4 separate regions of the Homo sapiens genome follow, and regions 1, 3 and 4 are each linked to region 2. The links come from fine-mapping of genetic effects on gene expression. A gene starts in region 2. Each other region holds a variant in brackets. All regions are shown on one strand. Distances are from middle to middle. Region 1 overlaps PDE2A (phosphodiesterase 2A). Region 2 holds the start of PDE2A (phosphodiesterase 2A). Region 3 overlaps PDE2A (phosphodiesterase 2A). Region 4 overlaps PDE2A (phosphodiesterase 2A).

Region 1 (2,500 bases), 79 kb after region 2:
ATTCCTCTTCATCTCTGTCTCCTTCTTTCTCTTGCTCTGTGTCTCTAGCAGTCCCTCCATCTAATTCTCTCTCTATTGTACTACTAAATTCTCTGAGCCTCAACTTCCTGACTATAAAATGGGACAATAGTATTTACCTTGAGGGGGTGTTTCAAGGAGGTGCAAGTGAGATCATGCATGTTAGGGGCCTGGCACAAGCGAGGGCTCAGTGGCCCGTGGCTGTGGTTGTGATGTGCCTGTGCCTGATGCTGGATGGGGCTGTAGTTGTTCTCACATTCTCTCTGTCACTGTCATTGGCCCTATTTCTCTTTTTCTTCTCCTCCATGCCTCCTGTCCGCCATGTCCCTCTCTGCCTCGTGTCTCAGTCTCTCTAGGTCTCTGTCCTCTGTCTCGATGTGGAAAGTGCACAAGACTGGGAGTCAGGAGACCTGACTTGCTGTGTGATCTTGGGCAAGTCACTTCCCCTTTCTAGACCTCAGTTTCCCAATCTGTAAAATAGAGGTGCTCAGCCTCACCTGCCTTCCTCCCTGCAACCCTGGGAGGATCACAAGAAGGTTGTGAGTGAAGGGGTTTCCTTCCATGCAGAGGCTGTTGCTGTGGTTGTTTTTGTTGCTGCCTCAGGACCCGCCTCTGTGTTTCTGTGGGTTTTGGGGTCTCTGTGTGTCTCTGTCCTGGCCTCTCTTTGTCTGCATCTTTGTCTCCCCCACCTGGGTCCCGGCTCGGTATCTCTGAGCCTCGCCAGCCCTGCAGGAGCACCTCATTGCCCTCTCCCCCTCAGTGCTGGTCATGCCGCTAGCGGACAAGGAGGCTGGGGCCGTGGCAGCTGTCATCTTGGTAAGAGCCTGCCTAGGCGGTGGGATGTAGGGAGAGGAGACCATGGGAGGGAGTGGTGGATGGAGCCTGTCCAGGGTGTGTGTGTGTGTGTGTGTGTGTGTGTGTGTGAG[A/T]GAGAGAGAGAGAGAGAGAGAGAGATGGGAGCCATAAGCGAGGATGGAGTGAGGGGAAATGGGGGTGTGGGGGTGGGAGGAGTTGGGGCATCTCCCACACCCCAGCCTTCTGCCCCACCTCGAATAGGTAGGATGAAGCCATTGGCCCAGTCAGCAGCTTTCTGAGGGGTGTGCAAGCCCCTGCTGGACTCTCAGCCCCCATAAGGTTAGAAGGCCCAGCCTTTGGCGTACGCAGCACTAACCTTGGTTTCTCTTTGGGATCCTCCAGATGGGGTGGGGATAATGTCCAGGAGGGCATGAACCAAGTGAGGTGTGAAGAGAGATGCTGCGGAGGGACAGATGGACATAAGGGCCTGACCAATAGAGATAGTGTGGAAAACTAGCCAGAGATTTGGAGTGGCTGGAGCTGGGGGCCTTGAGGAGAGAAAGGCCATGGTCAGGCCAGCCAGACCCAGGGCTGAGGCTGGGCGGAAGACAGGCAGCTAGGGGGGCTTTCTGGAGTGGCTGAGGAAGGAGTGTTAGTGGGAAGTGGTGGATGCTCTGCCAGAGCCCCAGAACCCAGACAAGCCTCCCTCTGCAGCCCCTCGAGGAGTTCCCAGGGTTTCTGCTCCGTGGAGGGGATTGTGGAAGTGCAGAGCCTGTGGGGACGGGATTCTGCCGCTCTTTCCGTTTCTTCTCCTGTATGGAGGTGGGGGTTCAAACTCGTTCTATCCTAGTAACCAAAGGATGAGTTCCCCAAATTGCTATTATTGGGGGTCTGCTTCTGTCGAGGGGGCTGCCATTCCAGTAAAGGGCAGGCTTGGGGGCATGGACAGATAAATGAGCAGGTGTTGGTTCCCCGGGGACTCCTCTCCAGCTCATTAAAATGGAATTAAACGCTTCCCAGGCGCCTGACCTTTCTGAGCTGCTGGCAGGAGAGGGCAGTGGGAGTCAGGGATGGCTGAGAGGGGAGGAGAGGGGGGAGGGGAGGAGGGGTACTTGGCTGGGTCTCCTCTGCACCCATCTTCCTGACTGAGGGAGCCAAGGCCGCTGCTTGGTTTCTCCGCAAGCTGCTCCCCCCACCCCCGGTTTCTGGAACGGAGCTGCTGTTGCACGGAGTTCTCAGGGGGTCGCCTCCCCCTATTCTTTGCTCTTGGTCTGCCCCAGGGCTGGTCAGCTTTGAGGGGCACTGAGGTGAGGGGCTGTGTGCAGAGGTGGGGATTGGGAGGTGGTGGCTGGGTCACGCACCTCCTTCTCTGCTGAGGGCAAAGGGCCTGGGGTGCCAGGTGCCTGAGAAGGACTTCCTTAGATTGAGGCTATGAGGACTGGGTCAGGAGGGAAGTAAGGGGAAGACATTTGGAAGGTTGCTTCCCTTGTGGGCGGAATGCTTGCCATGGCCGCTGCTCACCTTGGCTCAGGCTGGGCCAGAGGCCAATGTGTGTGTGTGTGTGTGTGTGTGTGTGTGTGTCTCAGGGACGCTGGTGGGATCAGATCACTTACACTTAACTCACCCAGTAGAACTCTGGTCTGGTCCTGCGGCAGGCTGGGTGCTGGAGCCGACTCTGCCTTCAGGGAGC
Region 2 (2,752 bases):
GGGAGCAGGACGCCATGGTCCAGGGCTGCAGCTTCCTGAGCCCAGAGAATGCCTTCCTAGCTGTCAGGAATGGAGCAGCGAGGCCCCAGTGATAGGTGAGGTGGAGAAGCAAGACATGAGTTCTGGGCTGGCTCAGCTGCTTTACAACCAGCCTGGGCCTCGTTCCCTTTGAGAAAATGGTTTGCCCAGAGTTCAGAGATCTAAAATTCTATGATGCCTTCTGGGGCCACAGTGGGAAGCAAAGACTCCTCATATTTTCTTTCCTGACACTTCCCAGGCCACAAGACAACTGCTTTCTGCAGCACCCAGCCTGGGCAGGCCATCTACACAAGCTCAGTCATTTCTGACCTTGCCCCCTCCACCGTGCACCCCCATGTTCTTCAACATGGGTCAGGTTTCTATTCAGCCTCAGGGACTTCTCTGCTTGAAGCCTGTTGTGTGGCGGGGAGGTATTCTCCCCACAGCTCAGAGAGATGGGGTTGCTGTGGAGGGTTTGCTGTAGCTCCTCTACCCTGGAATATACCCTCTTCTGCCTTAAAAGACCCAGCTTGGACCCTCTCTTCCAGAAATGCTTGCTAACCGCCCCCCCACCACCCAAACTAGGTCAGGGGTCCCTCTGGGCTTCACAGACCCTGTGCTTCTTTCTGTCACAGCCTGCAAGTCTCCCCTCCCCACTCCCCAGCCCGAGTGCTTCTCTGAGACAAGGGATAGTGTGAGCCATGAGCTCAGCCACTGGTAGGCCAATGAATAAGTAAGTTAATGGTGAAGCCAGGATCCAAATCCCCATTTCCTGCCTCAAGGTGTGGAGCTGTTTCTCCTGCATACAATAGTAGCTCTGCTGTGACAACTCTCTATCTGTCCTAGGGCCTAAAATGCCTCTATTTCACTAGGTTATAGCTTTATCCTAGGGAGTCCTCTTTGGAAGCAGGGTGGGGGTGCAACAGGCCTTCCCCCATGCCTGTAGTCTGTGAGCAGCGAAGGCCATGTGGGGCAGGCTGTGGCCTAGGTCTCCACAGATCCTGGTAGAAGTCCATGCTCACGCATCAGCTCCAAGTCCCAGCTAAACCAAGCCACCAAGAGGTGGGCCCTGTGACAAGGCTCTGAGTCCAAAGGCCATCAGTAAAGCCCCCTAAGTCTTCCGTGGACCCAGCTCCAGGCTGGGATGCACGCTAGGAGATGATACACACCGGGTGAGGGAGCCCAGAGGAGAGGGCAGCTAGCTGTGCATGGAGGCCTGATCTCTCAGACTTGAGGGCACAAGCGTGTCCCCTCATCCTGAAGGCTTCTGCGATGGGGCAGCAGAGGGTCTGGGTCTGCTGCCCCTCAAGTCCCCAGCCCCATCCTAGCCCATGAGGATTGTAAATCCCTCGTCCTCTCCCCTCTCTCCTCTGTCAGCCACTCCCCTTTCCCCCTACCCCACTCTCTTTCTATTTCTGCCTCTGATTTTTTTTCCTTTTCTGCCTTTGTTCCTCTGTGTGTGTGTTTCTCTATGCCTCTCTGGTCTCTTTGTACTTCCATCTTGATCTCGCTAAGGCTCTGATCCCTCTCTCCTCTCCCTCTTCATGTGTTACTGTCCCCCTTCCTGTCTCTGTTTATCTCTCAGTCTCTCTGTCTGTGAGTCTTTTTTCCTCTCTCCCAGTCAGACTCTCTCTCTACCCCTCCCTCTCTCCCTCTCTCCCTCTCTGTCTGGGCCTCTCTCTGTTCCTCCTCCCTCCTCCCTCCCCCTTCTGCATTATCAGACCTGCTCCAACCTCCTCCCAGAGCCAGCCGAGCAGCAGAGGCAGTGGCAGCGGGAGAGGCGGGAGCAGCGGGGCAGCAGAGCTGGATTGGGGTGTTGAGTCCAGGCTGAGTAGGGGGCAGCCCACTGCTCTTGGTCCCTGTGCCTGCTGGGGGTGCCCTGCCCTGAACTCCAGGCAGCGGGGACAGGGCGAGGTGCCACCTTAGTCTGGCTGGGGAGGCGGACGATGAGGAGTGATGGGGCAGGCATGCGGCCACTCCATCCTCTGCAGGAGCCAGCAGTACCCGGCAGCGCGACCGGCTGAGCCGTGAGTATAGTGAGGGGCTGGGGTGGTGAGCGGCTGTGAGAGGTGCCACAGACAGGGTCCTGGGAGTCCCTCCAAGGAGCTGGGGTTGGCATGGAGCTGAGCCACGTGGAAGGATCGATCCTGTTCCTGGGCACCCCTCCTCCCCGCGTTGCCAGACTGCAGCCTGGGGTGGGGGCAGGTTACCTCTGAGCAGAATGAGGGTGTCTAACGTCAACCTAGTAGGTGATGAGGCTGGGGTCCCATGGAAGGGGCTGCTGGTTGGAGGAGGGGCTGATAATGAACCTGAACCGGTTCTTCAAGGGCTGAGGGTGTATGTGGGGAGGGGGAGGTCTGCCAAGTAGTTGGGAGGAGCTCTCGGGGCTGCAATAGGCTGGTTCAGGACCCGGAGAGGGAGAGTGTCTTGGCCCACCAAGGCTATGTGTGTGTGAAGGAGGTGGGGAGGGGGAAAGATGGAGAAAATATGAATAAGAGTGGCCCTGGAGCAAGAGAGGGTTAGAGGTAACCACCTTCCATGGAATTGGGAATTGGGGTTCAGGGACACCACTTTATGAAACTTTACCCCAAAGCGTCTGTCCCAGGATAGGGTTCTACGGAGCCAGATGGAATATGGTGCCAGCCTCGTGTGTGTCCACGTGCAGGGGGGTGCATGTGCAAGTGAGTGGGGGGCGCCGTGGCGACACCCCTCTACTAAGGGCTGCCGAGGTGGT
Region 3 (2,709 bases), 97 kb after region 2:
GCTCACTGGGATGGGCAAATGGGTGGGGGTGTCCAGTAGGAGGGCATGACACCCCTGCCCTCGCCTCAGGACTATCAGCGCATGCTGGATCTGATGCGGGACATCATCTTGGCCACAGACCTGGCCCACCATCTCCGCATCTTCAAGGACCTCCAGAAGATGGCTGAGGGTGACTGCTGTTAGCCCCAGTCCTTGGGGCTGGGGAGGAACAACCAGGGGAAGGATTTGCCAGGGGAGCATTCCCAGGGTGCAGACCCATCCCCTGCAACATCAACCCTTCTCTGGCTGCACGGCCCCCCCCAGGCAGACCCAGCACTGGCCCCTTGGCTCCCATCAAGGGTGCCCAATTCCCTGGACCGCTCTGGGTTGGGCCCTGGGAGCCTTGTCCTCAGAAGGGCAAAGAGGCTGGGCCCCGCTCCTTGACCCCATCCTCCCCTCAACAGTGGGCTACGACCGAAACAACAAGCAGCACCACAGACTTCTCCTCTGCCTCCTCATGACCTCCTGTGACCTCTCTGACCAGACCAAGGGCTGGAAGACTACGAGAAAGATCGCGGTAGGTGTAGTCCTCCCTGGGAAGGCACAGGCTGCCCACCCTGCCCAGCTTTGGGTGCCCCCTGTGCCTGAATACCCTCTCTCTGCTCAGCTCAGCCTGGCTGTGTTCTGGGGAGACAGAAACCTAGACCATCTCAGGGTGACAAATGGAGACTCAGAGAGGGGAACAGACCTAGCAAGTCAGTGGCTGGTGGAAGGTGGGCCCCAACCCAGCCACTCCCTGCCTCAGGCCATCCCACTGCCAAGCTGGGGCTGGTGGGGACGGCTCCTGAGCTGGGACTGAATCCCTGGGCCTCAGTTTTCTCTCCTGGGAACGGGCTGTCAGAGGAGCTTGGGTGGATGTATCCTACATAGAGGATGTGATGAGAGTGTTGGCCTTTCAGGAGCTGATCTACAAAGAATTCTTCTCCCAGGGAGACCTGGTATGTGTGGAGTGACCCCAGGATGTCCAGGATGGGGGAGGGTTCCTGGCCTGGGACAGGGAGGGCTTGAACTAGCCTGACCCTGGTACCCGATGGAGGAATGAGAGGGACAGGCCTGACGACTCGATGCCTGCAGGAGAAGGCCATGGGCAACAGGCCGATGGAGATGATGGACCGGGAGAAGGCCTATATCCCTGAGCTGCAAATCAGCTTCATGGAGCACATTGC[A/G]ATGCCCATCTACAAGTGAGTGAGCTCATGGGGACAAGCTGCACCCTGCACAGAGAGGGTAGGCTGGAGTGGGGACATCACAGGAAACACAGGTGCTGAGATTGGCCTGGCCCAGGTCCAACTGATTCATCCCCTTGCCTCTGGGCATAACTGTCTCCCGCTGTGCCCCTCAGTGGGTCCTTCACTTCATCCTTGGTCCTCAGTGGAAAGAGACCATCATGCTTTCCTAGGTGTCCTCCTCTGTCTCACATTCTTGTGGAAGTTCTTGTTTTTTTTGAGATGGAGTCTCACTCTGTTGCCCAGGCTGGAGTGCAATGGCACGATCTTGGCTCACTGCAACCTCCCCCTCCTGGGTTCAAGCGATTCTCCTGCCTCAGCCTCCCAAGTAGCTGGGATTACAGGCATGCACCACCACGCCCAGCTAATTTTGTATTTTTAGTAGAGATGGGGCTTCACCATTTTGGTCAGGCTGGTCTTGAACTCCTGACTTCAGGTGATCCACACACCTCGGCATCTCTGAGTGTTGGGATTACAGGCGTGAGCTACCGTACCTGGCCCTTGTGGAAGTTCTATTTGTTGTGTAGCCCTAGTCTTTCTTGCTGCCCATGGTCTGATTTCTGGCCTCTCGCCCTCTGCCCCCCATGCACCCGCAGGCTGTTGCAGGACCTGTTCCCCAAAGCGGCAGAGCTGTACGAGCGCGTGGCCTCCAACCGTGAGCACTGGACCAAGGTGTCCCACAAGTTCACCATCCGCGGCCTCCCAAGTAACAACTCGCTGGACTTCCTGGATGAGGAGTACGAGGTGCCTGATCTGGATGGCACTAGGGCCCCCATCAATGGCTGCTGCAGCCTTGATGCTGAGTGATCCCCTCCAGGGACACTTCCCTGCCCAGGCCACCTCCCACAGCCCTCCACTGGTCTGGCCAGATGCACTGGGAACAGAGCCACGGGTCCTGGGTCCTAGACCAGGACTTCCTGTGTGACCCTGGACAAGTACTACCTTCCTGGGCCTCAGCTTTCTCGTCTGTATAATGGAAGCAAGACTTCCAACCTCACGGAGACTTTGTAATTTGTTTTCTGAGAGCACAGGGGTGACCAATGAGCAGTGGGCCCTACTCTGCACCTCTGACCACACCTTGGCAAGTCTTTCCCAAGCCATTCTTTGTCTGAGCAGCTTGATGGTTTCTCCTTGCCCCATTTCTGCCCCACCAGATCTTTGCTCCTTTCCCTTTGAGGACTCCCACCCTTTGGGGTCTCCAGGATCCTCATGGAAGGGGAAGGTGAGACATCTGAGTGAGCAGAGTGTGGCATCTTGGAAACAGTCCTTAGTTCTGTGGGAGGACTAGAAACAGCCGCGGGGCGAAGGCCCCCTGAGGACCACTACTATACTGATGGTGGGATTGGGACCTGGGGGATACAGGGGCCCCAGGAAGAAGCTGCCAGAGGGGCAGCTCAGTGCTCTGCAGAGAGGGGCCCTGGGGAGAAGCAGGATGGGATTGATGGGC
Region 4 (2,500 bases), 71 kb after region 2:
CACCGGCATGCTGTGAGAACTACTGCGAGGCTGGACCTGGAATCCCAGCATGCTGGGCCTGCAGGAGCTCACAGTGCCAACTCCTTGCATCTGAGAACAGGGAGATCACAGGCAGCGTCCTGCTGAGGGTTCTGGAGCCCCACTGCCTGGGTTCAAATCTCAGCTCCCTGTTTACTAGCTGTGTAACCTTGGGCAAATGACACAACCTCTCTGTGCCTCAGTTTTGTTTATGAAATGGTGATAATAATGGTGCTTATAGGATTGTGGGGAGGATTAAATGTGTCACACATGTAAAGCATTTAAATCAGGCCTGATCCATGGTGAGGGCTGTCTGTTGGGGATTACCATTGTGAGAGAATGCTGGAATCACTGACTTCAGGATCATGGGATCAGGGCACTTGGCCCCCTGATACCTTGATGCCCATTTAATTCAGCCTCCTCATCTTCCAGATGGGTGGATATCATGAGACATGACCAAGGCCACATGCCAGGTATGAGGCAGAGCCAGGCCTAGGACTCGGGTCTTCTGACTCCTGGCTGTTTAGGGGAAAGTGAGAGGAAGTGGAACTCATCAGATGAGAAAACCTTGGGGGCAGGCATGCTGCTGGGAGGAGGCAGGCTCTGAAGGATGTGGCCATTGCCTGCTAAGCACTGAATGCAGGGCCATTGTGGGGCCCAGGGAGCACTGGGCAGGAGCTGAGGGCAGAGTGGGCACCAGTGGGGATGTCCCAAGAAGGCAGCTCTCTACCCCTGTGAGGAGGGCTTTTCCAGCAGGCCAGGTGGTCCAGGGATGTGGCTTTTTCAGGTAGCAGCTGAGCCTGGCAAGCCACTCACCTTTCACAGGGACCATGGAAAGAATTCCTGTTTGAGGATGCTGGACTCATGGTCCTGAGGCCCCTCCTTGTGCTGGAAACCCTGGTTTCTAGGATGCTGGTCTCTCCTCAGCCCTTTCCCGTGGAAGGAGTTGGTTCTGCTCTGATAGCCACCTTCCCATTTCCTATTCTCCCACTGAGCTCCTTTCACCTTCCCCTAACAACTTCTCCGTCAAGGAGCATGGGAACAAAGCCATTACCACCTCTCTCTAGCCTTTGTGTCCCGTCTGTAAGAGGATGGTCTGAAAGGTCTTTAGAACCTTAAGGGGAAAAATGTGGTCATGTCCCCCTTTCTCCTCTAATTCCAAAGAACTTCGCTCTCCTCCAGCATCCCCCACCTCTAATTCTAAAGAACTTTGCTTCATATAAGCTCCACTCCTCCAGGAAGGCTCCTCGGAGCAGCCTGGGAGGCCTTCCTGGGAGGGATGCAGGAAAACAGGCTCAGGAGGCAGCGGGGAGCAGCCTGCAGGTTTGCTTCACTCCCTAGGACCCACACATGCTCCCCTCAGCTGTCTGGGCATGTAGAGTGGGTGCGTATCTGCGGTCCAGGCATTTTTGAGAGGGCTCAGATCCTTGGCATCAGCTGCCCTTTCAACATCCTCCTTCCAACCACTTCAGACTCAGTAAGGCCTTTGGAAAAAATACCAAAAAAAAA[AG/G]CAATTAAAAGTGAATATTCAAATCCAATTATCCCAGAGCTCAGTGGAGATGGGGAGGTGAGTGCCTGCTGGTAGACAGGGGCTGAAGATTCCAGGAGGAGGGCCAGGGGATGAGAAGGCAAGAGAGTGAGGACAGCAAGGACCTCCCAGGGGACATACCCATCATCAGGACACACCCGTCATCATCCCCAAACAGGAATTCTTTCCATGGCCCCTGTGAAAGGTGAGTGGCTTGCCAGGCTCAGCTGCTACCTGAAAAAGGATTGGGGGAAGGCCCAGGCCCAGTGCTCTCTCTGGTATCTGAGCTCTGCTTGCCCACCTTTGTGCCTGGTGTCTGGTGGTGAGCCCATCTCCACAGTTAGGGCGGAGAGGCCCCAGGGTTGGCTGGGCCCTGCTCTCAGGAGCTCCCAGCAGGATGGGGACTTGAGACCCAGGTGTATGGACGAGGGAAGAGCACTGGAATGGGATTCAGACAGGTCTGGATTCTAGCTCAGCCCCCTCCCTGTCTCTCTGCTTTCCTACCTGAGGCCCGGTCTATTGGCTTAATGGGGTAACAGGGGCCAAGTGCTTGGCACAGTGCCCAGCACACAGTAGGAGCTCAGTGATTGCTACTTGCACTCCCAAGTCCCAACCAATGATTAGCCTTGAGTGACCTTGAGAAAACGACTTCTCTTCTGGCCTTTTTTCTGTGAAATGGGTGGGGTTGGGTACAGGGTCCTTCCGATGGTGACCTTTGTGGCTCTGGTCCCCCCAGGAGGGAGAGGGACTGACCTACAGGCTGCCGTGGAGCCTGAGGCTCTAGCAGTGCCCGAGGAGGTGGGGGTGTGGGGAGGGTGCTACTCCAGGAAACCCTGGACTGTGGGCAAACAGCAGCAGGTGTGGCGTGGAGGCTGGATCATAGAGACAGATAAGGAGGCCCGAGGCAATGGGCAGGGAATGGGATCAGGGCAGTGTGGGGAGAGACAGGGTGGA

What was found. PIP is the estimated chance that this variant, and not a neighbour inherited with it, causes the effect. A credible set is the group of variants that fine-mapping cannot tell apart.
Region 1: its variant is the best candidate, but not a certain one, in a credible set for the expression of PDE2A in whole blood (INTERVAL, PIP 0.66).
Region 3: its variant is the best candidate, but not a certain one, in a credible set for the expression of PDE2A in blood mononuclear cells (TOPMed, PIP 0.62).
Region 4: its variant is the best candidate, but not a certain one, in a credible set for the expression of PDE2A in whole blood (INTERVAL, PIP 0.53).

Annotation. Positions count from the first base shown.
Region 1 is chr11:72,594,927-72,597,426 of GRCh38, reverse strand. It overlaps PDE2A (phosphodiesterase 2A), which reads left to right. Exons shown (of 31, transcript NM_002599.5): 6 at 779-834. Among named protein-coding and RNA genes, the nearest start is that of PDE2A-AS2, 12 kb to the right of the region's middle. The variant A/T (reference allele first, on the strand shown) is at 945.
Region 2 is chr11:72,673,430-72,676,181 of GRCh38, reverse strand. It overlaps PDE2A (phosphodiesterase 2A), which reads left to right and starts at 1,760. Exons shown (of 31, transcript NM_002599.5): 1 at 1,760-2,045. The coding sequence starts at 1,975. RefSeq lists enhancers at 36-536, 687-1,311, 1,312-1,938, 1,939-2,564, 2,565-2,752.
Region 3 is chr11:72,576,744-72,579,452 of GRCh38, reverse strand. PDE2A (phosphodiesterase 2A) reads left to right here. Exons shown (of 31, transcript NM_002599.5): 27 at 70-169; 28 at 444-556; 29 at 939-977; 30 at 1,114-1,220; 31 at 1,859-2,709. The coding sequence ends at 2,069. Among named protein-coding and RNA genes, the nearest start is that of PDE2A-AS2, 6.5 kb to the left of the region's middle. The variant A/G (reference allele first, on the strand shown) is at 1,206.
Region 4 is chr11:72,602,317-72,604,816 of GRCh38, reverse strand. The region is part of intron 4 of PDE2A (phosphodiesterase 2A); the gene reads left to right. Among named protein-coding and RNA genes, the nearest start is that of MIR139, 12 kb to the left of the region's middle. The variant AG/G (reference allele first, on the strand shown) is at 1,528.